Homo sapiens: one gene and its partners. The protein of the gene in region 7 interacts with the protein of the main gene of each other region in a pairwise test. Each region holds a gene or a part of one and is shown on either strand. Other genes may lie near its edges.

Region 1 (3,500 bases), on a different chromosome or scaffold from region 7:
CTGAACACAGAGCAGATGACACTGACACAGCATTGTATTTAAAGATGTGAAGGCTCAGAATCCACATGAAGACTTAACAGCTACTCTATCTATTAACAGGTCCTTGGAGCACAGACCACTCCCCTACTCGTGCTAGGTCCTGACAGGCCTTCCTCTCGGAAGAGAAACAACACAGATCTCCCAGGCCCGGTGATGGGGCGCCAGGGAAACAGGGTACGTGAAGAGAAAGGAACAGACAGGCTCCCTCCTCCATCCAGGTGCCCCGGGCCCACTCACCACTGCACGGGCTGCCAGTTGGGGAGGAAGGGCCGGAAGCCCGTGATGCACTCAAAGGCCAGGGTGCCGAAGCTCCAGTAGTCGACGGTCACTGTGTACTTCTGCTGCTCCAGTAGCTCTGGGGCCTGCAGCAACAGGAGGGGGTACACCTGAGCTGCTCCTCTCTGGGGGGACCACGGCAGGAGGGGGCGGCCAGCCCATCTGCTTTCACCCCTGGCTTCATCCTAGAGGGCACTGGCACATGCATGCAGGGCGAGGAGGGCACCCCAGGCATGTTTAGCGGGTATATCATGCTACCATTTCTAAGACCTTTCTATGTCCCACTCACTCCAGTAGGTACTGATGGAGGGGCTAAAGATTCAGGGCCAGAGTACATCACACACCCATCGCTAGGCTTTAACTTCTCTCCTTTAAAACTGAGGGTTGCAGGCTGGACGCAGTGGCTCACACGTGTAATCCCAGCACTTTGGGAGGCCGAGGTAGGCGCATTACTTGAGGTCAGGAGTTTGAGACCAGCCTGGCCAACATGGTGAAACCCCGTCTCTACTAAAAATACAAAAATTAGCTGGGCATGGTGGTGTGCACCTTTAGTCCCAGCTATTCAGGAGGCTGAGGCACAAGAATCGCTTGAACCTGGGAAGTGGAGGTTGCAGTGAGCCAAGATCATGCCACTGCACTCCAGCCTGGGCAACAGAGTGAGACTCTGTCTAAAAAAAAAAAAGAAAGAAAGAAAGAAAAAAAAGGAAAAAAAAAAAAAGGGTTGCAGCATTTCAGGCGCTTATTGAAAACTAGCTTAAGGCAGGACACAGTCGTGGGCACTGTGTAGAAATGGGAAGAGAGGCTACAAATGTTAAAGGAAAATGATGCCAGGCTGTCCACACCAAATACACGCATTAAGTGCTGGTTGAACCCCTGAACCAGGTACCATGTGGTTGCAGAAAGGGCCAGGATATTTAGAAACAGGCAGGGAAAGTGTGATGCATGGCTGCTGCTGAGGCAGAGAGCGCTGGGGTGACCGAAGAAGGGGCGGCAGCACGGGGTGCTGGGGGTGCAGACTGGGCTTAGCAGGTGGGTGGAGACAGAAATGACTGGGGCAAGCAAAAGCACAGAGACAGGGTGGTGCATGGTCTGGTTGGAAATGTGAAGCTTAAGGAAGGGCCCGGGAGACCAAACCAAGAGAAGACATTCCGGGATGGGTAGGTCAACCTCTATGTCTGGTTATGGGCAGACGTTTTAGCTCATGTGAGTACATGACTTGACTCAGCTCCTGGTTAGAGCATGGGGTCCCCCTTGCTCGACTGCTGCTGAGCTGAGGAGGACTCCAGAAGGATCTACCAAATCACATGCCATATGGACACAGGCGCCTGAATCACAGCCCTCTGTGAGACCCACTCTGAAAGCCGCAGACTCCTTGAGTCACTCCCAATTGTGGTGGCTACTGCCATCATCAAGCAACCTATGACAAGTCTTGCTGGGCATTTGTGCTAAGCCCTCCTGGAATCTAATTGCCCTCTACATCTTCACTGCCCCTACCTCACCCACTCTTCCCTCCTGTTCAGTGTGATTCCTTCTCCACACAGTGTCAGGAGTGGGCTTTCCAAAGAGTTGCTCCTTCTCCCACTTAAAACCCATCAATCTCTGCAGAGGTTTTAAGATAAAGTCTAGAACTTTAGCCCAGCCCTGAAGGCCCTTCATAATCTGTGCTCTACCTTGTTCTCAGCTTCAACTCAAGACTCTCTTTCCCTTTTGTGCTCGGTTCCAGCCACACCTGCAGGTCTTCCTGTGTGTGATCCCTTTGCACGGAATTCCCCCTGCCGTCCCCCACCTCCAGCCCTTTTCACCTCCTTACCCTTCAAGTCCCAGACCAGGCTGAGGCCACCCAATATATATTCTTGCAACACCCTGCACTCTTGCTTTGTAACACTCACCACAACTGTAATTTCTTAGTTATCTGTGTAAGCATCACAGTAATGCTTGCTTTCCTGCTAAACCCTAAGCTCTGAAGGCCGAAAAGGGCTTGTCTTTTTTCCCCACTGCATCACCAGCCCTGAGCACAGTGCCTGACACAGACTACACTCCATCAATATGCTTGAATGAATGAGTGACTCAAACAGAAACCTAATATTCAGACCAAATAACGTAAACAAAGGGTGGGGAGCTCAGAGCTCTGACCCCTACTCAGTGGCCCCTGAAATACCTCATGGAAAGTGTGGCCTCGGCCAGGCTCAGTGGCTCCTGCCTGTAGTCCTAGCTGCTCAGGAGGCTGAGGTGGGAGGACCGCTCAAGACCAGCATGGATCTGTTTAAAACCCTTTCCTTTCAGAGAAGACACTGAAGCACAGAGAGGCTAGGGGATGGTGCAAGGCGCATGAGCAGAGCCCTCCGGACATCAGAGAAGACGACCACATCCCTCCACAGGGCATCTGGTGGCAAAAAATGCTGACTCGACCAGGTTATGGGTGTGACCTCATGCATCTCCAAAACATTCAGAGAGCCGGTGGGACTCAGGTGCTGGGAGCAAGGCAGGACAGGAGCCCCACAAATGCAGCAGCAGGGAGGAGCTGACAGGCAAACAGGCAAGGCCCACTTCTTACCAGGTACTGCAGGGTCCCCACGAATGATGTGCAAAGACTGCCCTGATCCAGCTCCTTGGCATATCCTAGGTCAATAATTTTGTGTATTAACTAAAACAAAAGGAAGGAGAAAGCTGAGGGTTATAAGAACACAATGTCCTTCTACGAGGATTCTGACTGCCTGGTGTTAGAGCAGAGGTATTTCTGAATTCCCAGGTACTATTAGATCCCAAACTCCTAAGAGCCACCAGATACACAAAAGAATGCCCTCGACACGGTAGATTCAGGGCTAAAAGAAAAGGCATATTGTAAAAATGCTAGGCACGTGTCCTCCCACACTCTGCCACGCATCATCAGAGGGAAGCTGAATGAACAGAACAGGCACCAGCCCTCAAGACAGCTAAACCCAGACTTGAAACAGGAAGGACCGGGCCAGCCTCTTCTCAGTAAATGCCCTCAGTTCTCAAATCTGAGCACCACTGACAGGAGTGAGGGTGAACTGGAACAAGGGCGAGCCCTGTGGTAGTCACAGGCCAGGCCTAGGTGCTAAGGGCAGCTGTATGGGAAGGGATTAGGTGATCTAAGAACTCATTCACTGTATTCCACTCAGCTGAGCCTGTGCTCACCACCCCAGCTGAACACATAGAGTGGG
Region 2 (3,155 bases), on a different chromosome or scaffold from region 7:
AGGGCTTCCTATTTCCGAAGCCCTTGTGTCCACACAGGCACATGGACATCACGGCGCCTGCGGCCCACGAGCCTGGTCCTGACACTTGGGGGCTGCAGGGAATAGGAGCGCCCCTCAAGGAGCCCATGGCTCTGCTCTTCTGGTTTTAGCCAAATGCTCTGTGAAGGGGAAAGGGAGACTGGGAGGAAAAGAGCCAGGGGAGACAGGGAGCCAGAGAGGACGCCACACTCCCCTCCCCGGGAAGCATTCGTCCATTTAAGGAAGAGCTCCTCACTCCACATGAGGTCTATATACAGTCACACGAGGTCCCTGATCCTCCTGCGGTCAGCAAAGTGTCGCCCTCCGGCAGCCACTGGACCTGAACAAGGCCTCTGCTTCTGGCTCAGCAGCGGCGGAAGCTGCCCATGGGCCCTCACCCACACTTCACCAGCTGGAGGCTGCGCTGAGACGAACCCCCGGGCCCAGGGTGCCATGAGCAGACAGGGAGCCACAGGCAGAAATTAAATAGTGGCAACTGGTATTTATTACAATTATATACAGTCCTATCTTCCGTTCTGAGGTCTATACATGATCACACAAATGAACATGTGTTTCCTGGGGGGAAGGACAGAGCTGGCTGTTGGTCAGGAAGGCCCTGCTGCCTGGCTCCTCCTCCGGAGTGAGCCCCCATCTCGCCATGGGATTAGCTGAACCATTACACGGCAAGCGGGGGCATCGGAAGCGCAGCGTGGTTTCATTTGTCTGGGAGGACGACGGGGCATGAGTGGGGTTGGGGCTGGGGACAGGCACCTGACGGGTCCAGGGCCGGGCCCAGGGAGGGAGGGGGATGGCAGACACCAGAGGGACCGCAGCTCCTCCTCCACTGAGGAGTCGGGAGGCAGTAGGGACGCTAGCTCTGGCCATGCGTGGTGTCACGGTAGTCAAGACACTCAGCAAACACACCCTGGGCAAGGCGTCTGTCCGGGAGAGGGGGCTGGGGAGGGGCTTGGGCCCCGAGGCTTCGCTGCCTTCAGCCTGACTTGAGATCAAAGCCAAAGGCAGCTGGGCCTGGGGCTGGGGCTGGGGCTGGGGCTGGCGGCCAGGCGAGAGGAGGCCAGGTGGACAGAAGTGTGACTCCCCACACTGCCACCAGGCCGCAGTGCAGCTGAGGACAGCTCTGCCCCCTACCTGGGCTCCAAGCTGCCCTCCCAGGGCCAGAGAGGGAGGCAGGGTATGGCCACGCACGGGCACACTAGATGCCATCCTCAGGGCTGGAGGCAGCAGGCGCAGCCCTAGTCCCGCTCACTCTCGTTGCTGGCGCCCTCGGGCCGCCGCAGCTTCTCCACCTGCTCGTTGATCTGCCCATCCCCGCCCCGGCGGTCCTCCCTCTGCACCCCCAGGCAGTCCTCCTCGTCCACATGGCTCACATCATCATCCTCCTCATCCTCCTCGTCCTCCTTGTCCTCCCTCTTCTCCTCCTCGCCTTGCACCTCCATCCGCACCTGGCCCTTGACGTCCACCACCCCCTCGCCTTCCTCCTGGGGGCCCAGCAAGTGGTAGGTGACCGTGGAGCCCTCGGGGCTGTGGCCCTCCTTCCCAGGCGAGGACGACGTGGACTCGTTGCTGACAGGTGAGATGTCGCTGCTGCTGTGGTGGTTCACGGCCGCAGGGCTGGAGGGTGACGGTGACTTGACTGGGATCTGCCAGGAGGGGATCTTCGGGGCTGATGGGGATGGAGGGAACTGCCTCCTAGAGGGAGAAGAAGGGGAGGAGGTTGGTGGCGGCATTCAGGACGCCCCCCTTCGAAGGGCCACGCCTTCCCTGACCCGCAAGGGCTCGGCGATGGTGAGCTGCTCCCCCAGGGACACTGGGCAAGGGACAGGATGGAGCCCTTCCACCCCTCCTTTCAGGAGCAAAGATCCTACAGCTGAGATAGATGCCAAGCGGGTCCTGTGCCCCCACAGACAGCCCAGGGTCCCCCCGGGCCCCCACCCTGGGCAAGGCCCATCTGCCTGGGCAGCTGCTGGAAGCCAAGTGGGGCCTGCCTGCCATGCGGGAGCCTGCTTCCTTCTGATCCTCAGCACCATCCCTGCCTCCAACCCAGTGGCCAGGAGAGAGACAGGTTGGTGAGGAGTCCAAAAGGGCTATGACTGGGGACTCCAGACACCTGAGCCACAGTCCTCATTTGTCTATGGCCTGAGCAAAAGGTGGAGGCAGGGAGCCCTGGCCACTGGCAGGGGGTCAGACACATCAGAACCAAAAGGGCGGTGGTTATGCCCTTTGCTAGAAAACTTCTGAGCTCAACACTTTCAACGCAGAAGAGGCAGCTCTCCCTTCTGCTCCGTACTCCGTTCCTGGGCCAGCAGCCAGCCCAAACCAAAGCCAATTCCAGGAGGGACCTGGGAGGTCAGGTCCACTTGGCAACGGCTCAGAGACAGAGCTCTCCAACAGGCAGGCCCATCTCTGCCTGAGCCAAGAGGACAAAGCCCTGCCCGCAGGGCTGTCCCCCAGCAGGGGCCTTAGACACAACTCTCCCACCACAGACCCCACTTGAGTGGGGCACACACCACGGCCTGCTTTATTCACCAGCATCCTAAACGCTAACAAGAAATTCCATGTGCAGTTTTCTTGGCCCCCACGGTCACCCGATGGCCTGGCCTCCATCCCCAGCCTCCAAGGCACTGGTCTCGGTTAGGGAAAATGGAGGCTGTCTCCTAATGACAATGCTCTGGCCTCTGCCAGCGCCACATCTCTTTCCAGGACATGTTCTTTTCCTCAGGGAAAACCGGGAAGTTGGGTGGCTTGGAAAATGGGGTCTTCTGGCTGGAGCCGCAAGACCCCTCTGCACCCCATCCTGGACCCTAGTGAAAAGCCCACCTGCACCCTCCCACTCACCCAGCTCCCAACAAATCCAGCCCAGCAGGGAAACAAGGACACCCCATGCAAGGCCCACTAGGGCATCAGCCCAGGAGGATGGCCCACAGTTGCGGCTCCCAGGACAGAGTGGCTCCTGGACACTGGACTTTCAGTTTTAAAAAACCAGAACAGTCCAGGCACAGTGGCTCACACCTGTAATCCCAGCACTTTGGGAGGCCATGGGCAGATGACCTGAGGTCGGGAATTCAAGACCAGCCTGGCCAACATAGCAAAATCCCACCTCTACTAAAAATACAAAA
Region 3 (2,787 bases), on a different chromosome or scaffold from region 7:
CTGTCACCCAGGCTGGAATACAGTGCATCACTGCAGCCTTGACCTTCTGGGGTCAAGTGATCCTCCTACCTCAGCCTCCCAAAGTGCTGAGATTACAGGAGTGAACCACCAAACAATTATTGACCTGAACAACTGCTCCATGAAAGAATTTCCACATAACTGTAGCTGCATCTTTCAAATGTTTAATTTATAACTGTGGTAATGTATGTACTGCCTAATGTAACTGGGGTATTGTAAAGGGGAGGCTCTCAAAAGAGAGGTACTATAATTTCTTTGTAATATCCTAATTGCTGTCCAAAAACAGACCTGGTTTTATAATATTAGCTAACATCTACTGAGCAATTCCCTTGGGACAGACAGTTTCAAACATGCAAGATCTCACCTCTTCTTCGTAACAATCAATAAGGTAGTCTCTACTATTGTCATTCCCATTTCACAGACTGGGAAATAAGAACAAAGACAGATTAAGTAAATTGATCAAAGTCACACCGTCAAAGGGATAAAGCTGGATCTATTGTTTATTTACATGAATACTGACATCTTAAAGATTAAGAAAAACAAGTTCATACACATGCATTTAAAATTCATTTCAGTCAATAAATTTTTGTTGAATGCTTATTATATGCAAAGTACTGATTTAAACTAATAAACTGGTTAACATCAATGTTACAAATATAAAGTCCTTTTAAAGTATCAATATCAAAATAAATCTTCCTTCCTGTGGTCCACAAAAGAAAAAAGATGTACCAGCACTTGTAAATTAAGTTTTTCAATTTCCAAAATACCTCCTTTAAAACAGAAGGGAATAAATTCCAACAATGCTATTTTCAATGCATTCATTATTTCAAAACTTACTGGAATATTTGAAGATTACTTGCTGCAAGCTGGACTCATGTGAAAATAAACCTTGACTTCACAGAGAAGTCTACATTGATAAATATATATCCGTTGAATTAATAACAGTGTAAGTTACACATATGTATACAAAAAAGTAAAATGACAAGGATGAGAGGAGTTTTTCATGGAAGGTGGTGGGTTGCCATGGATTCTGCTTCTCTTGATTTTCTGAGGAGGGCTTGTTTGAGGGCACTAATTTTCTCATCAAGTTCAGCCAGTGAATAGTTCTGCTGTAAACAATAACGACACAAATTGCTGAATAAGATTCTGAAGTATCTTAATGCAGATAAAGTGCCAAATGAACTATAAATATTTAAAATATTCAAAAGCATGATCAAATGGTTTTTTTCCCTCATGAGAATAATCTTAAAACTGAGCAACTATATATGTTGACTATATCATAAATTTAAAGGCATAAAATAACAAGGCTTAAATATTTCTTTTTCTCTTTTCTAATGACTAAGCTCTCCTGAACCTTTTATACTTAGAAAGAATAAGTTAAAAAAAAAAAAAAAGCCTGATTATTAGACACTGGAGCCTATTTGAAGATGGGAGGAGGGAGAGGACTGAAAAACTGCCTATTGGGTATTATGCTGATTGCCTGGGTGACAAAATTATCTGTACACCAAACCCCCATGACATGCAATTTACCCATGTAACAAAGCTGAAAAACCCTTGAGCTTAAGTAAAAGTTGGAAAGAAGAAGAAAAATGCTAATTATACTACTACCAGGAGAAAAAAATCATTTGAGACATCAACTATCCCTTTTAATGGAAAACTTTCTATGTTGATTACTAAAGTTAACCTGAAGTGGAAAATAGTGAAGAAAATACTTCTTTTACCTTCCAATAAAAATTGGATTTATTCAAGTCTACCTATGTGAACACCCTCACTTATATATTAATATTTCTAATTTAGACACAAGTATTATGTAGTGGCTATTAGGGGGTAAAGAGAAGGGGAAATTGGGACTGAGTGCTAATAGATACAGGGTTTTGGGGGGGCAGTGATGGAAATGTTCTAGACTTAGTGGTGATGGTTGCACAACATAGTGAATATACTAATAGCCACTTTAAAATGATGAATTTTATGTTATGTGAATTGTATTTTTAAAGCAGCAACGAAGTGTTACAGTTTACTACATAAGAGAATAACTTTTAAAAACCTGATTATTCTCATAATCAATAGTAAAAAAAGTTAGTTAACTTTAAAAATAGCTGCTTAAAATACTTAGAAATTCTCTCTTGAGGGATCAACTATAATAATTTACTTCGGGAAAAAATAGCTGCTATCAAAAAACTTACTCAGAATTTTACAAGAAAAAAATATGCTACTCTTAAAAATCAGAAAGTTTTCTCCAACTTTAAATTCACATTACCACTGTTAAATTCTAGCAAAGCCTTACTATTTAAGGTTCAACTAATTAGTAAAGTAGCACTTTAGACAGGGCTGGCTGAAGTCAAACTCTGCCAAACACCCTTTTTGATCTAGGTGCTGCTAATTAGAAGTGTTCACAAAAGGAAGGGATGGGGGGAGACTGAAATTACTTGAGCACTTACTATTTTTAAGCACTTTGTGAATGACACATCCTTGTACTACTAAAAGCAGGACAAAGGTTTTATTTATTTAACCTATCTGAGTCATTCCATGCCCTTAAAATAATTTTTCTATTCAACTGTATTAGTTTATACTGCCCTTTTCTTCAGTCCTAAATTTTACCAGGGTATGACCTAAAAGCAACCATAGTAGAAACTTTTATTAATAAGAAAGGTATAAAACTAATCAAACTATTTCAGAAACCAAAATGAAAATGCAGTAACTTACTTGAGGTGGTTGAACTTTTCTTCTTTTTCCAGAAAAGCTCTAGATTAAAAAAAAAAAGGTAATGTT
Region 4 (3,500 bases), on a different chromosome or scaffold from region 7:
CAGCTCCTCGTCTGTGCAGCCTGCAGGTGGATGCTGTATATGGCTTGATTATCAAATACATTATTTTGTGTAAAGAATTCTAAGTTGCTACAGTATATATCAAATGAGGTATACTGTAAGGGGTCAAAAGCTGCAAAAGCACTTCTTGAAGTTAAGAAGTCAGGTAGATAGGCATGAGTGGCCATATTATACCTATTCCTAATTAATAAATTAAAGATCTAGAAGATGAAAGGATATGCATGGTAATTGCAGCCAGTGACAAATTGTTAGGCACTGCAAATACAACCAAATACAGATGGCTAATACAGATGGGCTGGGGGCTGGGGGCTGGGGGAAGTACTATAAATAAGCATTTCATCATTTTTCTAAATCTACTGAAATTCTGTTTCATGCTACCCGCTCCATGGAGCCTTCTCTAAGAGACTACAGGACTAAAATGCTCTCCCAGCTTAGCACTCCTATAGGACTTATTGGGTGTACCATGCTAAAGGCAAGGAATGTAGGCTGCCTCATACTGTAGTTATTTCTGAAGAAACTGTATTTCTTTTAGTAAACATTTTAGACAGTCTTTGGAGATAAAAACCAGTGTTTTTTACATCTTTATAGTGCCCATCGTTCCTTGCATATTTAAAAAAAGTATACCCTGTTCCATTTTTTGTGTATGTTTGAAATTTCCGTTGTAAAAAAGTGTTTTTAAAAGATTACCTCACCAAACACAGTTTGAAGTCAATACCAAAAAAGTATATATGTTCACTTCTAATATGAGGCTATAGAAAAAAAGAAAAAAAGGTATAGATGTAACAGAGCAGTCTAAAATAATATTGAAAATTATATTTAAAAAAGGAAATCTAGGCCGGGTGCGTTGGCTCACGCCTGTAATCCCAGCACTCTGGGAGGCCGAGGCTGGTGGATCACGAGATCAGGAGTTCAAGACCAGCCTGGCCAACATAGTGAAACCCCGTCTCTACTAAAAATACAAAAATTAGCCAGGCATGGTGGTGCGCGTCTGTAATCCCAGCTACTTGGGAGGCTGAGGCAAGAGAATCGCTTGAACCCAGGAGATGGAGGTTGCAGTGAGCTGAGATTGTGCCACTGCACTCCAGCCTGGGTGACAGAATGAGACTCTGTCTCAAAAAAAAAAAAAAAAAGGAAATCTAAAGATGATGGTTATGGCACCTCAGCATTTTGAACTATTACTACAAGTAACCAAGGTGACAAGATAAATCATAAAATTCTGATAAATTTTTTGAAAAAGATATTAATAGTAATCCAAGTTCCTTAGGAAACACATATTTTTTCCTAGATATTAAATCCTAAAGAAGTTGTTATTTAAATCTCTGTATGAGGAGATCTGAGTAATGTAATAGTCCATGTCTTCCCAGGTAGTTTTTCAAAAAATGCAAAAAATACCTATGTGGCCTAAACTTTAGTCTGTACTCTCTCATGGTTGTGGGCAAGTCACTTAACCTCTACATGCCTTGGTTTCCTTGTAAGTGAAATGAGGTAAATAATATCGGCCCAATTTCATGTGGTGGTTATAAGAATTATATATAATAACTTACATGAATGAATTATTCAAATATAAATTAGGACTCATATGAATACAGGAAACACTTATAGTGCTTGTATATGTCAGGCACCGTTTAAATAATTTAGTTATTTTGTTATCTCATATAATCTTCACATCAGTCTATGAAGTAGGTAGTTATTATTTTCATTTTGCAAATGACAAAACTGAAACACAGAGATGTTGAGTAACTTGCCCAACACTTGTATTTGATAATCAAGCCATATACATTATCCACCTGCAGGCTGCACAGATAAGGAGCCGTGCCTGGATTGCAGGTCTAGAAACCCTGAGTATGAGTTTACTCAGGGGTAGTGAAGTAATACACACAGACTAAATGCAAAGAGACTAGTATATAAACCAGAGTGCCAATCTATTCGTTTATAATGAGAATTATTTATTTTCCATAATATTTCCAAGGGCTCTGGCTACCAAGTAGGGGAGCCAGGCTACGAATCTAGTCATTCTGGCTTTAACAGCCAGGCTCATAACCATGCACTCTGCTGCCTCTCTCTGAAACTAATAAAGTTTCACTGTATGGTGTGTTGTAGTGAGAAAAGAGGGCACAGGCCTTAGCATTATAGAGATGTATCACCAGAGCAAGTCCAGCCAGCTGCCAAGAGGCTCACTAAGGTGTTATCCATTTGAGTGAATACCCTCAGCCCAGCAAGCCCAGAAACCTGATTCTGTTAGCACACTGAGACTACCTCCATTTATCAGGGGCAGAGCTCATCAAGCAGATTTAAGGAGACTGACATATAAACCTAAAGACCAATTTTTAAATGAACAGACATACAAAGTCACATAGTAGAAAATACCTGGACTGGCTGGGCACAGTGGCTCACGCCTGTAATCCCAGCACTTTGGGAGGCCAAGGTGGGCGAATCACTTGAAGCCAGGAGTTCCAGACCAGCCTGGCCATCATGGCGAAACCCCGTCTCTACTAAAAAATACAAAAACTAGCTGGGCGTGGTGGCCAGTGCCTGTATTCCCAGCTACTTGGGAGCTGAGGCAGGAGAGTCACTTGAACCTGGGAGGCAGAGGTTGCAGTGAGCCGAGATTGTGCCACTGCACTCCAGCCTGGGCAGCAGAGTGAGACTCTGTCTCAAAACGAGTGAATGAATGAATGAATGAGAGAAAGAGAAAAAAGAAAAGGAGAGGAGAGGGGAGGAGAGAGGAGGGGATGGGGGAGAGGAGGGGGAGGGGAGGGGAGGGGGGAGGGGAGGGGAGGAGAATACCTGGGTTCTGGGCTCCCAAACAAATGCACCGTCTCTGTAGATAAGTACTTGGGAAGCCAAGTAATGATTGGAAGATTGCTTAGTGGTATGGAATTTGGGAGCTAATTGGATAATCTTCAATAGACCTGCCACAGGACCCTAATACAAATATTTCTACTGTAAAATGATACACGTGTTCCTAAAAAAACCTCACTTTCTGCAAAATCATCCTCTATAAAGTTACAGTGGTTATGGAGGTGGGGCAAATAGGCTTGGGACAAATGATTCAAAACCCTTGCAACATTTTAACACTAACTAAAACAATAATTGGTACCAGGAGAGAGAACTTGGATGGTCTAGACAAGCAGTTTACTGTGGCTGGAGGCTGCCTCAGGGGATAGTAAATGCAAATATAGTGTAATTGCAGGCTTGAAGCTGCTGAGACCTGAGCTCTGAGCCAGCGGGGTTGCCGTTAAGTTGGGCACAGGAGGGAAGTGCAAGCTGCCACTTGATGGAGAGCTGCGCAAGGCTGGTGTTGTGCCTCTCTGAGGAGGGAACCCTGGATGCTGGCTGAAAAGAATCCTGCTTATACAACAGCCAAGCTGAAGGCTTTTTCTTTCCAGCTGAAAGCTTTAATTCTCTTCCCACTATTCTGCTTTCTTCTGACTAGGAAAAAATCATGAACCAACACAACCCCCACATTATACTGACATCAT
Region 5 (4,054 bases), on a different chromosome or scaffold from region 7:
ATTAAGCATAATTGTTTGACATAAACCATTACACATGCACATTTCCTGCTTTGTGAAGTGTTCTTGGTACTAAATCTGTATCCTTTTCTATGTAAAGAAATTTATTTCTTGACTTGAAGAGTATGTATTTGAAGTGATCAAAAATACTACTTTACAGGCACCTCACGATAAGTTCCTAATTATAAATGTATTCATAAACACAGGTTTTATTTTTCATTCTTTATCAGAAACCCAAATTATTCTGAAATGGGGGATTTTCTTCGACTTCACTACCTGTGCTCTGGGGTAGGAAGTTGGGGATAATTGGTTTCAGAAATTTGAACTTATTTGACCTGGAGCCTCCAGTCACACACACCTCATAGTGGTAGCTCTGGGACAGGGTCCCGGTGCCACTCACGTCCACCAGATGTCCTGGAAAGGGGCCCTCAGGCACCGAGCAGCGACCGACCGGGGCCGCCCTGCTCCTCCTGCACAGCCGCACCGCCACGAACAGGAGCACCGAGAAGAGGAAGAGCGACGACACTGAGGCCAACGCCACCACCAGGTAGACAGTGAGCGAGTCGGCCTGGGCCTGGGCCGGGGCCGCCTCCGGGAGAGGCAGGTAGGGCTGGGAGAAGCCGTCCACCAGGAGCACGTGCAGCGTGGCGGTGGCCGAGCGCGGAGGCTCGCCATTGTCCTTGACCAGCACCACCAGCCTGTGCTTGGCCGCGTCGCGCTCGCTCAGCAGCCTGGCGGTGCGCACCTCGCCATTGTGCGCCCACACGCCGAATAGCCCGGGCTCCGTGGCCTTGAGCAGCTGGTACGACAGCCAGGCGTTCTGGCCCGAGTCACCGTCCACCGCCACCACCTTGGTCACCAGGTAGCCCGGCTCGGCCGCCCAGGGCACCAGCTCGGTGCAGGGCGCGGAGCCGTTCTGCAGCGGGTACAGCACGAAGGGCGAGTTGTCGTTGGCGTCCAGCACCAGCACGCGCACCAGCGCCTCGCTGCTCAAAGCCGGGGAGCCGTGGTCTGTGGCGCCCACGCGGAACTGGAACCCCTGCAGGGCCTCGTAGTCCAGCGACCTGAGGGCAAACAGGTGGCCGTTGTCCGCGTTGATGGAGACCAGGGAGGCGAGGGGCAGGTGCGGGTCCTGGGACGGCAGCAGCGAGTAGTTGACCTGGGCGTTGGTGCCCGAGTCTCTGTCTGTGGCGCTGATGCTGCCGATGTGCAGGGCGGGGCTGTTGTTCTCGCGGACGAACAGGGCGTAGGAAGTTTGGGTGAAGGCGGGGGCGTTGTCATTGACGTCGGAGACCAGCACGGTTATGTTGTGCTCGGTTTTTAGCCTGGGGGTCCCCAAGTCGGTGACGGTGATGGTGATGTTGTACTCGGCTCTGCTCTCTCTGTCCAGCGGTCTCTCTGTTTCCAAAGTGTAGTAATTATTTACCGAAGATTTTAGCACGAATGGGATGTCCTCCGGGATAGAACAAACCATCTTTCCGTTGTCCCCAGAGTCTCTGTCTCGTATCCTGAAAACCATAACCACAGTCTCTGGAGTGTTTTCTGGGATTGGACTGGTAATTGATGACACAGTGATTTCAGGAGCGTTGTCGTTTACATCCATCACCTGAATTCTGACTGTAGATTTTCCAAAAAGTCCTCCCCCATCTGTGGCTTGAATGATTATTGAGTATGACTCAATTGCTTCAAAATCCAAAGGTGCTGTTAAAGTAATGTCACCAGACTTTTGATTAATTTCAAATGTCTTGCGAATATCTTCTGAGGCATGGGAAAAGGTATAGGATAGTTCACTGTTTGTTCCAGAGTCTAAATCCCAGGCTGAGACGGTCACAACCAGGGAGCCAAGGATGCTATTCTCCAGAATCTTCACCTCATAAAAAGCCTGCTCAAACTCAGGGGAGTTGTCATTAATATCTACAACCACCACCCTGACCAAGGCAGTTCCAGACCTGGGAGGGGACCCGCCATCCAGAGCAGTGAGGATGAAACTGAGCTCCGGGCGCTCTTCATAATCCAGCGCCTTGTCCAGAACTAACTCAGGGTATTTCCTATTGTCTGGATTGACTCTTATTTTAACGTGGAAATGAGAGTTCGGATTTATTGTGTAGCTTTTTACAGCATTGATTCCTACATCTAAATCCTTTGCACTTTCAAGCAAGAACACAGCACCAACAGGACTGTTCTCTGGGATTTCTAAGAGCATTTCTTTTTCCAAGAAGACGGGAGAGTGATCATTTATATCCCTGACCTGGAGCTCAATTTGTAAAAACTGCGTGGGGTTTTTCATTAACACTTGGAAATACAGCACACAAGGCTCATTGGAGCCACAGAGCTCCTCCCTGTCTAGCATTTCTCTCAGGAGCAAATCCCCAGTGTTTGTGTCCAGCTGCAAACACTCTTTGTTATCATTAGAAACCACCCGAGCCCCCCGCGAAGACAGCTCACTCACCTCGAGTCCCAGGGTCTTTGCCAAATTTCCTACAAAGCTCCCGCTCTGCAATTCCTCCATCACCAAAAAGTTCCCAGTTTCAGAGCCCGCCTGAGACATTCCCAGCAAAACAAAGAAAAGCAGGACTTGCCTTATCTGCAGAGTGCCTGCCCCTCCGTTTTCCATAGCTTCTTTTCCAAAACCCCAAAATCTTCTTGCAGAATTGCCTCAGCGCCTCTTCGCAGTTGTGGGAAACGTGCCTCTGATCTGTCTACCAAATCCTCGGAAGCCTGAAGATTTTAACCTTGTTGAATGGCTTCTAGGTTCTCCCTTAAAGGATTGTTCTTTCTGTCTTCCCAGTTCTCCGCGTGTACTGGATAACAGGGTCTACAACATCCTCCAGGGTAATTTTTTTCTTGATATTATCCTGCAGCGCCACCACGCGTCTCCACAGATTTTCACAGTTTGATGAACACTACCTAAATTTTATTTACATAAATGTCCTCCAGAAGCAAATAAATATTGCGTTTAAATAATTCCTTCTGTTGAAGTAATTAAAAATATATTTTATCTTCCATAATAATCGTTTTATATTCTTTATAGTTTGTGATGATGATTTTGTTTTAAAGCATTTATTCAGTGTCTTTCCCCACTCTTCTCACAACCAAATGTGTTCAGTTGTGGTAAACACAGATACAAGATGTGATCCCTGGCTCCCAGGAATTCATAGTGTTTCTGAGACAATTGTAAGCCTGAAACAAGCAGGGTATAAGTGATTGTTAAGCTGAATGAAATTCTATTACTACTTGGCTTTCCTTACGTGATAAGGTAAAGGAAAGGTCATCTCAGAAATCCTTTCTGAAGTTATGAAACTGGATTAACCATGAGATGAGGCATATATAGGTCAACACAACAGCATAAAAAGGCACTTCTGTAGATTTCCTTAATAGCAATGAATTGTGAACAGGCAGAAAATGAAGCAAGAGATTGGGGTGGAACATGTTATGTAAACCCATCATTTAGTTCCAGTTTTTCATAATTTACAAAAAAATTCATAAGTACACAAGCATGAGCAAGTTAGTTTAATTTAAAGCAGACTCTTATTCCTAAAGCTGACTTGCCTTAGGTTCCCAAAATTTATTGTAGCCACAACTGTAGCTATCTGTTTTCTCTTTCAGCCCAGGAAGAGAAAGTAAGAGTCTATCCCTAAACATAGAACAAAAACCTAACTTTCACTCTAATTAGACCAAGTAAGATCATGTGTCTGCCACTGAAGCAATCATTGTTTCAAGAGGTATAGAATTATAGTTGGAGATTTTAGTCCTAGAATCTAAAGACCTGTCTCTGGCCATTACTGTGTTTTAATCCTGTCTGGGACCACCTCTTAAGCTTGGGAAGGTTTCAGTCCTAGCCAAAGTACCTCATTGGTACAAAATGAGGGAGACTGTTTGCAACAGATGCTAAGGGCTCATCAGTGATATTCACTATAGAAAGTCTTAAAGTGCACTAAGAATGGATGGGAGAAGAATCCAACAAGTCTGCATTTTAAAATGTTAAATTCAATTAATATTCTTAAAAATGTAAGCTGGATACATGGTTGAAATAGTAATTGGTACAGAAGGGTAAAAC
Region 6 (3,500 bases), on a different chromosome or scaffold from region 7:
TCCTGCCTCAGCCTCCCAAATAGCTGGGATTACAGGCACGCCACCACACCCGGCTAAATTTTTTATTTTTATTTTTGGTATTTTTAGTAGAGATGGGGTTTCACCATGTTGGCCAGGCTGGTCTCAAACTCCTGACTTCAGGTGATCCATCCACCTTGGCATCCCAAGGTGCTGGGATTACAGGCGTGAGCCACCACACCCAGCCGGCAGTAATGTTTTAGTATCCCCCAAATACTCATTTACCCTACTCCACATTATACACACAACAGTGTCAAAATAACAATACGATCAGACTACTACCAGCTAAGCTAAATGTTTTGGCATATATGCCCCTTTTATGGTTGTACTACCTATGTTGTCTGGATATAGCCATTACATACTATATTCTTTTGCTTGTAGCGCTCACTTAGGTTTCTGTGTGTGTGATCTCACTTAGTTTTGATTGTAGCAATATGTTGTTAAAAATACCTTTTAAATTAAGACTAAATGTTTAAAGATCTGTGGGGTTTTTTTTTTTTTTTTTTTTTTTTTTTTTTTGAGACAGGGCCTTGCCCTGTCTCCCAGGCTGGAATGCAGTGGCGCAATCTCAGCCCGCTACAACCTCCACCTCCTGGGCTAAAGTGATCTTTCCACCTCAGCTTCCTGAGTAGCTGGGATTACATTCAGGTGTGCATTGGCACGCCTGGCTAATTTTTGTTTTTTGGAAGTTTTTTGTTGTTGTTTTTTCGGTAGAGAGAGTTTCACCATGTGGCCCAGGCTGGGCTCAAGCTTCTGGGCTCAAGCAGTCTGCCTACCTCAACCTCCCAAAGTGCTGGGATTACAGGTGTGAGCCACCCGGCCTGGTCAAGATCTGTGTTTTAATTGTTAGCGAGAGCTTACCGCCCTGCTTTGTCTCCTGCCTCGCCTTCATATGCCCAAGGTGCACACAAACACATTTTAAAAATCAGTACTTCTCCTTTTACCTACTCAGTATGGATGGCACATCTCAAGTTCTACCCTTAATAAGCTCCTCCACCTCCATTCCCCTCACAGTGATTAGCTCTTTGCCTCAAACTTCTGCAGTATCTCTTTGCCATCGTTTGGTACTTGATTATAATCTTACTTATAGTAATTCTAAACTTACTGAAGGTGTGTACATTTCTACTGCTTGAATTATCTCCTGCTTGAGTATTTCTTTTCCTCCTTGTCTCCCAGTGTTTGCAAAAATTTGAGTGGCTTCTTAAGCTGATTATGAAATTGAAGACACCCGGACCCAAGTAACTTGGAGAACTCTTCTGGCTTGGAGTACAGTTATTTGTGTTGTTTATCCCCCTGGTAAACGGCATGTTCCTTGACTAGGGGACATCTTTCTGCTCCCTTGCTATTCCTGGCATAACGCCTTGTACATAATATGTTTAGTTAAATTTATAAGTATCCCTAATGATAACAGTCATAACAACATTTATTGAAGTTAATTCATCCTGTGCTCTGAACCCTTATATTTAAAAAAAAATTCTGCTGGCCGGGTGCGGTGGCTCACGCCTGTAATCCCAGCACTTTGGGAGGCCGAGGCAGGTGGATCACGAGGTCAGGAGATTGAGACCATCCTGGCTAACATGGTGAAACCCTGTCTCTAGTAAAAATACAAAAAATTAGCTGGGTGTGGTGGCAGGCACCTATAGTCTGAGCTACTCCGGAGGCTGAGGTAGGAGAATGGGGTGAACCCGGGAGCCGGAGCTTGCGGAGTGCCACTGCACTCCAGCCTGGGCAACAGAGTGAGACTCCGTCTCAAAAAAAAAAAAAAAAAAAAAATCTGCTAAGTGGGTACTGTTAATTCCTGTTTTGCAGATGAGGAAATAGAGGCTCAGAAAGGTTAAGTAATGGCACACAAGTACCAGAACATGGGGGGATTGGTACTGGAACCCAGCCACACTACTGCTGCCAGGGCTTTTGAGACTTTAAAAATGACATTGGGTTCTCCCATGGTGATTATTCTTTATGGAAGGGCAGCAAAGGAAATAATAAAGATAAATATGTAGGATAAAGAGAATTTGCCATTATGCTGTATAGTCTCCCTTAAATCTCCTACATAATTTTGGAAGTGTCAACTTGTCAAAATTTGCTTATTTTCACAGTTTGTCTTCCCACCTTTTCATAGCAAATCTGAACCCCTGAGTCTTGATAAGAGTAGTTGAAAAGTTGTGAAGTTTGTTCACTTTCACTTGTTTTTATCAGCTGTTCTTTTTTTAAGCTTTGCACTGTGCTCTGAAGAGTTTCTGTTAATGAATACATGATCCTGAGACAGGGTGATTTTGCTTTGCGTTTAACTTTTGCCAGGAAATGTCCCCACTAGTTTTTCTATGCTTTTTTTGGTGGTAAAATACCTAAGTCTATACTCTCCCCAACACCACATTGCCCCATGAATGTGGTAATGTAGCAATGGAAAGCTAGTGAAGATAATTTAAAATAACTTTTCTATGACCATTTAAAAATATGCTAGGTTTCAAACATTGGTGAAAGCAGAATAATTGTGATCCCTACTTATGATTACCTTGAGATCTGGAATCCTTATTGCTGTAGACTGCTTTTCTTGAAATCTGGTATTGTATTTTTTTTTTTTTTTTTTTTTGAGAGGGAGTCTCGCTCTGTCACTCAAACTGGAGTGCAGTGACACTATCTCAGCTGACTGCGACCTGCCTCCCGGGTTCAAGCAATTCTCCTGCCTCAGCCTCCTGAGTAGCTGGAATTACAGGCGTGTGCCACCACCACACCTGGCTAATTTTTGTATTTTTGGAAGAGACGAGGTTTCACCCTGTTGGTCAGGCTGGTCTCGAACTCCTGACCTTGTGATCCACCTGCCTCGGCCTCCCAAAGTGCTGGAATTACAGGCATGAGCCACCACACCCAGCCTGAAATCTGGTATTGTATTTTTTAAGACTACTTTTACATGTGGATTTATTTTTTTTTAAGACTACTTTTACATGTGGATTTATTTTTAAGGAAGAACAGAAACATATTTGAACTTGATGGGTTAAAGGTAAATTTATTTTTCTTTTTGGGTCCTATGACAATGTATTAGATATGTTATGTGAATGAAATTATCTTGAAGAGTTAATTTTTATTTTTCTTAAGTAAATATTGGCTCTAGTAGACCTCCTTTTGTGCATGTGATTTTTGTTTTGTTTTTGTTTCTTTAAATAAGCAACCCTTCTGTGGGGCTCAATTTTGGAAATCTTGGAAGTACTTCAACTCCAGCAACTACATCTGCTCCTTCAAGTGGTTTTGGAACCGGGCTCTTTGGATCTAAACCTGCCACTGGGTTCACTCTAGGAGGAACAAATACAGGTGAGGAGGATCTGATCACATTGTCAGAGAGTAGGCTTGGGATATTCTTTCCTAAATTGTGTCCTGTATCTCTCTTTACAAGGATCATCACTGGTAGTAGACCTTAAAAAATGGTAAATGCTAAGATGAAAAGAAATGCAAGGAATTGGAATTAAGGGCTAGTGATAGGCCCAATC
Region 7 (3,500 bases):
GCAACAGAGCTAGACTCTGTCTCAAAATTAATTAATTCATTAATTAATTAAAAAATCTTAAAAAACAGTAAAAATAACACAACTTTTCTAAGAAACAGAAATAATTGAAAAAAGTTTTAAAAGTTGATAATTTTATCTCATTTTTCTACAAAGTGAAGGCACAAAAACACCTATATTTTTATTTATGTGCTTATATCCTACCTTGTTCCAAAAAGGAGTTAAAAAAGAAAACAGTAAAATAATTTTCATGAAATTTAAATAAAGCAAGTGCTGCCAGTACAGTTATTGCCACTTATACTTTCCCAATAAAAACAATAAATAAGAACTTCAGTGAGCACTAGATGTATTGACATTATTTATAAACATTTACGAGGTATTATTTTATGTGATTAAGCTCTGGAGCCACACTGCTTCTACCACTACTGATTATATGACTTCAGACAAGAAACTTAACTTCTCTATGCTTCTCTGTGCTTCTGTTTCCTCATGTGTAACATCTATTTCATAAGGTTGTTATGAAGCTTAAATGCAATAATATACACAAAGCACTTTAAACAATACCTGGTACATAGCACTCAACAAATGTTACTATTATAACTATCATTTTAAATGCATCATTCTTGTAAACTATTGCTTAGATAAATTATTCAAGTCTTTTTTATTATTATTATTTTTTTTTTTTGAGACTGAGTCTCGCTCTGTCGCCCAGGCTGGAGTGCAGTGGCACCATCTTGGCTCACTGCAAGCTCCACCTCCCGGGTTCATGCCATTCTCCTGCCTCAGCCTCCTGAGTAGCTGGGACTACAGGCACCCGCCACCACGCCCAGCTGATTTTTTTGTATTTTTAGTAGAGATAGGGTTTCACCGTGTTAGCCAAAATGGTCTTGATCTCCTGACCTCGTGATCCGCCCATCTCGGTCTCCCAAAGTGCTGGGACTACAGGCGTAAGCCATGGCCCCGGCCAATTATTCAAGTCTTAAAGCAGCAGTTAATATGAAAATAAGTGATTCAAAAACTGTTCAGTTGATGTAAATGATTTTAACAGTAGACTGCTTTTCCTGGTGGTTTACTGGATTCAAAGCTTATACAAAGATCAAAAAATATATATATATATGTTTTTTAATTGTTTTTTTGAGACAATCTTACTGCTGCCCAGGCTGGAGCGCAGTGATGCAACCTCAGCTCACTTCAGTCTCGACCACCGGGGCTCAAGCAGTCTTCCCACCTCAGCGTCCCAATAGCTGGGACTACAGGCATGCATCACCACGCCAGGCTAATTTTCGTATTTTTTTGTAGAGACGAGATTTCTCCACATTGCCCAGGCTGGTTTTGAACTCCTGAGCTCAAGTGATCCCTTGGCTGGGTGCCATGACTCATACCTGTAATCGCAAAGTGTTGGGATTACAGGCATGAGCCACCGTGCCCAGCCAAGATCAAAGTTATAAAAAGCATTATTCTTCTGCTACTACAGTGCAAAGTTCTTAATAAACCACTCCTAACAGTTTTTTGGAAACCATTGCTAGTTTATCTCACACCGGAGGCCATGATTTTTTAAGGCAGTAACCTTTTAAGTTTTAAGGCAGTAACTTTTTAAGGCAGTATTTTTTTAAGGCAGTTGTAATTAATTAATCACATATTAATTGGAATTCATTATTGGGTAATACAGGATGTGACTGAGAAAACAGTTTCATTACAAGTGTCATTAGGCATTTAAGTTACCATACAAGCTGGTATTACTCAGGGAAATATAAGCAAGTAAGAGCAGTGTATCAGAAAACCTAGTTTCTGATCTGGGCTCTGCCAGCTAAATGTCCTTGAAAAAAAGTTACTCAATCCTGAGACTTGTCTTACAATATATTATACAGGGATACCTGTACCTATACGTTCTAGTCACAGGTTATTAAAAGGAGCCTATGTGACAGGTAATGTGTGTGAGAACACACTGTAAAGCACTATCAGATATCATTAATGATGTGAACTCACTATAAAATTCCATGTGAACTCACTATAAAATTCCTTAGGATAATGGCCTACAGACATATGCATGTTGCTGCACAGGACATGATTGTATTCTTTTTAATGTGTGCGTAGTATTTTATGGTGTATATGTGGCACATATTTCTATCCAATTTATTGATTCACACATAAGTTAAGTCCATGCCTTCCTTATTGTGAATAGCAATATGGCGAATATACAAGTGCATGTGGGGTTTCTTTTTGTGGAATTTTTAATTTTCTTTTGGATATATACTCAGTAATGGAATTGCTGGTTGAATGGTACTTCTGCTTTAAATTCTTTGAATAATCTCCAAACTGCTTTTCACAGTGGCTGAACTAATTTACATTCTCACCAACAGTGTATAAGCATTTCATTTTCTCTGAAGTCTAACCAGAATTTGTTATTTTTTTACTTTTTAATAGTAGCCATTCTGACTAATATTAGATGGCATCCCACATTGATTTGCATTTCTCTGATGATTAGTGATGTTGAACATTAAGAAAACAACCCCATTAAAACATTGACAAGGGACATAAGCAGACACTTCTCAAAGTACAGTACTGTACTACCCTGTAGTACAGTAATGTACTATAGAGTACATTTTAGGTACATTAGATGTACTACAGAGTACATTTTAAAGAGGAAAAGGAGGCACAGAGAGGTTAAATAATTGACCCAAGATCACACAGCTCATAAAATAGCATACCAGGATTTGAATCCAAACTATTCTCTTTACTATTATGCTATATTGTCCCTTATCAGCTATTATAACAATAAACATACAAAACTTTAATTAGGATTGTAATTCTGAAGATAATTCACTGAAAATTAATCAAGTTGTAAACAGTTTAAATTCTAAAATCAATCAATCTCAATGCATATTTAATATTGATAATTTGATACAAAACAAGGCTTGAGAGAACTTTAAAGTCCTAGCTCAGTAATACAAGGCAAGCATGAAATTTCCATTTCACTTACTTGCTTCCACAAAAGCTTTCAAAGCTTCTAGTTGTTCTGCTCCAGATAACTGAATGGCTTTTTCCAGGATCTGACGATACCTACAACAATACCAAATGAAAATAATGTTCTGAGGGTACTATATTTTCTAATGCAAACTTTGATGTGTATTTATTCATTTCTACATACCTTGGTTTCTTTCATAGTACTATAGTTTGTGGTTTTCTTTATAGTATACCACAGATTTTTTTTTAAGTTTCTAGTCTATCACAAGAGATATTAAATCTATAATTATATAAGGTACCACTTCATCTAGTTTTCAGTATAGTATACCAGAATTTTTTAAGTTTTCAAGCTCATCACAAGAAAGAATGAATCTATAATTCTGTTACTGAATCTAAGGTGTCACTTTTTCTTGAAGGTTTTATTTTTGAATTTAAACTACAAAGTCAATTTCCTTTCAAATGCCTTAAAAGATAAGCTATATTTCCTTCAACTGTGCAATACATAGACACACAAAAACATTATTTGAGGTGACCTGAAT

Evidence for each region.
Region 1: the proteins of COPS4 (region 7) and IKBKB interact in a two-hybrid assay, tested with the Homo sapiens proteins (one study listed by BioGRID).
Region 2: the proteins of COPS4 (region 7) and PEX14 interact in binary tests that used the Homo sapiens proteins (3 or more experiments, as listed by UniProt).
Region 3: the proteins of COPS4 (region 7) and MBIP interact in a two-hybrid assay, tested with the Homo sapiens proteins (one large-scale study listed by BioGRID and IntAct).
Region 4: the proteins of COPS4 (region 7) and HEMGN interact in a two-hybrid assay, tested with the Homo sapiens proteins (one study listed by BioGRID).
Region 5: the proteins of COPS4 (region 7) and PCDHB12 interact in binary tests that used the Homo sapiens proteins (3 or more experiments, as listed by UniProt).
Region 6: the proteins of COPS4 (region 7) and NUP58 interact in binary tests that used the Homo sapiens proteins (3 or more experiments, as listed by UniProt).

The regions. Positions count from the first base shown.
Region 1 is NC_000008.11:42,305,802-42,309,301, reverse strand, and holds part of IKBKB (inhibitor of nuclear factor kappa-B kinase subunit beta), read right to left. Parts: intron 2,960-3,500; coding exon 2,870-2,959; intron 402-2,869; coding exon 277-401; intron 1-276.
Region 2 is NC_000001.11:10,628,104-10,631,258, reverse strand, and holds the end of PEX14 (peroxisomal membrane protein PEX14), read right to left. Parts: intron 1,729-3,155; coding exon 1,272-1,728; 3' UTR 501-1,271; downstream 1-500. UniProt on the Homo sapiens protein: Component of the PEX13-PEX14 docking complex, a translocon channel that specifically mediates the import of peroxisomal cargo proteins bound to PEX5 receptor.
Region 3 is NC_000014.9:36,298,064-36,300,850, forward strand, and holds the end of MBIP (MAP3K12-binding inhibitory protein 1), read right to left. Parts: intron 2,761-2,787; coding exon 2,722-2,760; intron 1,128-2,721; coding exon 1,020-1,127; 3' UTR 501-1,019; downstream 1-500. UniProt on the Homo sapiens protein: Inhibits the MAP3K12 activity to induce the activation of the JNK/SAPK pathway. Component of the ATAC complex, a complex with histone acetyltransferase activity on histones H3 and H4.
Region 4 is NC_000009.12:97,931,673-97,935,172, forward strand, and holds part of HEMGN (hemogen), read right to left. Parts: intron 1-3,500. UniProt on the Homo sapiens protein: Regulates the proliferation and differentiation of hematopoietic cells. Overexpression block the TPA-induced megakaryocytic differentiation in the K562 cell model. May also prevent cell apoptosis through the activation of the nuclear factor-kappa B (NF-kB).
Region 5 is NC_000005.10:141,207,465-141,211,518, reverse strand, and holds the start of PCDHB12 (protocadherin beta-12 precursor), read right to left. Parts: upstream 2,801-4,054; 5' UTR 2,612-2,800; coding exon 224-2,611; 3' UTR 1-223. UniProt on the Homo sapiens protein: Potential calcium-dependent cell-adhesion protein. May be involved in the establishment and maintenance of specific neuronal connections in the brain.
Region 6 is NC_000013.11:25,304,625-25,308,124, forward strand, and holds part of NUP58 (nucleoporin p58/p45), read left to right. Parts: intron 1-2,979; exon of another isoform or gene 2,980-3,016; intron 3,017-3,181; coding exon 3,182-3,324; intron 3,325-3,500. UniProt on the Homo sapiens protein: Component of the nuclear pore complex, a complex required for the trafficking across the nuclear membrane.
Region 7 is NC_000004.12:83,045,183-83,048,682, reverse strand, and holds part of COPS4 (COP9 signalosome complex subunit 4), read right to left. Parts: intron 3,058-3,500; coding exon 2,978-3,057; intron 1-2,977. UniProt on the Homo sapiens protein: Component of the COP9 signalosome complex (CSN), a complex involved in various cellular and developmental processes.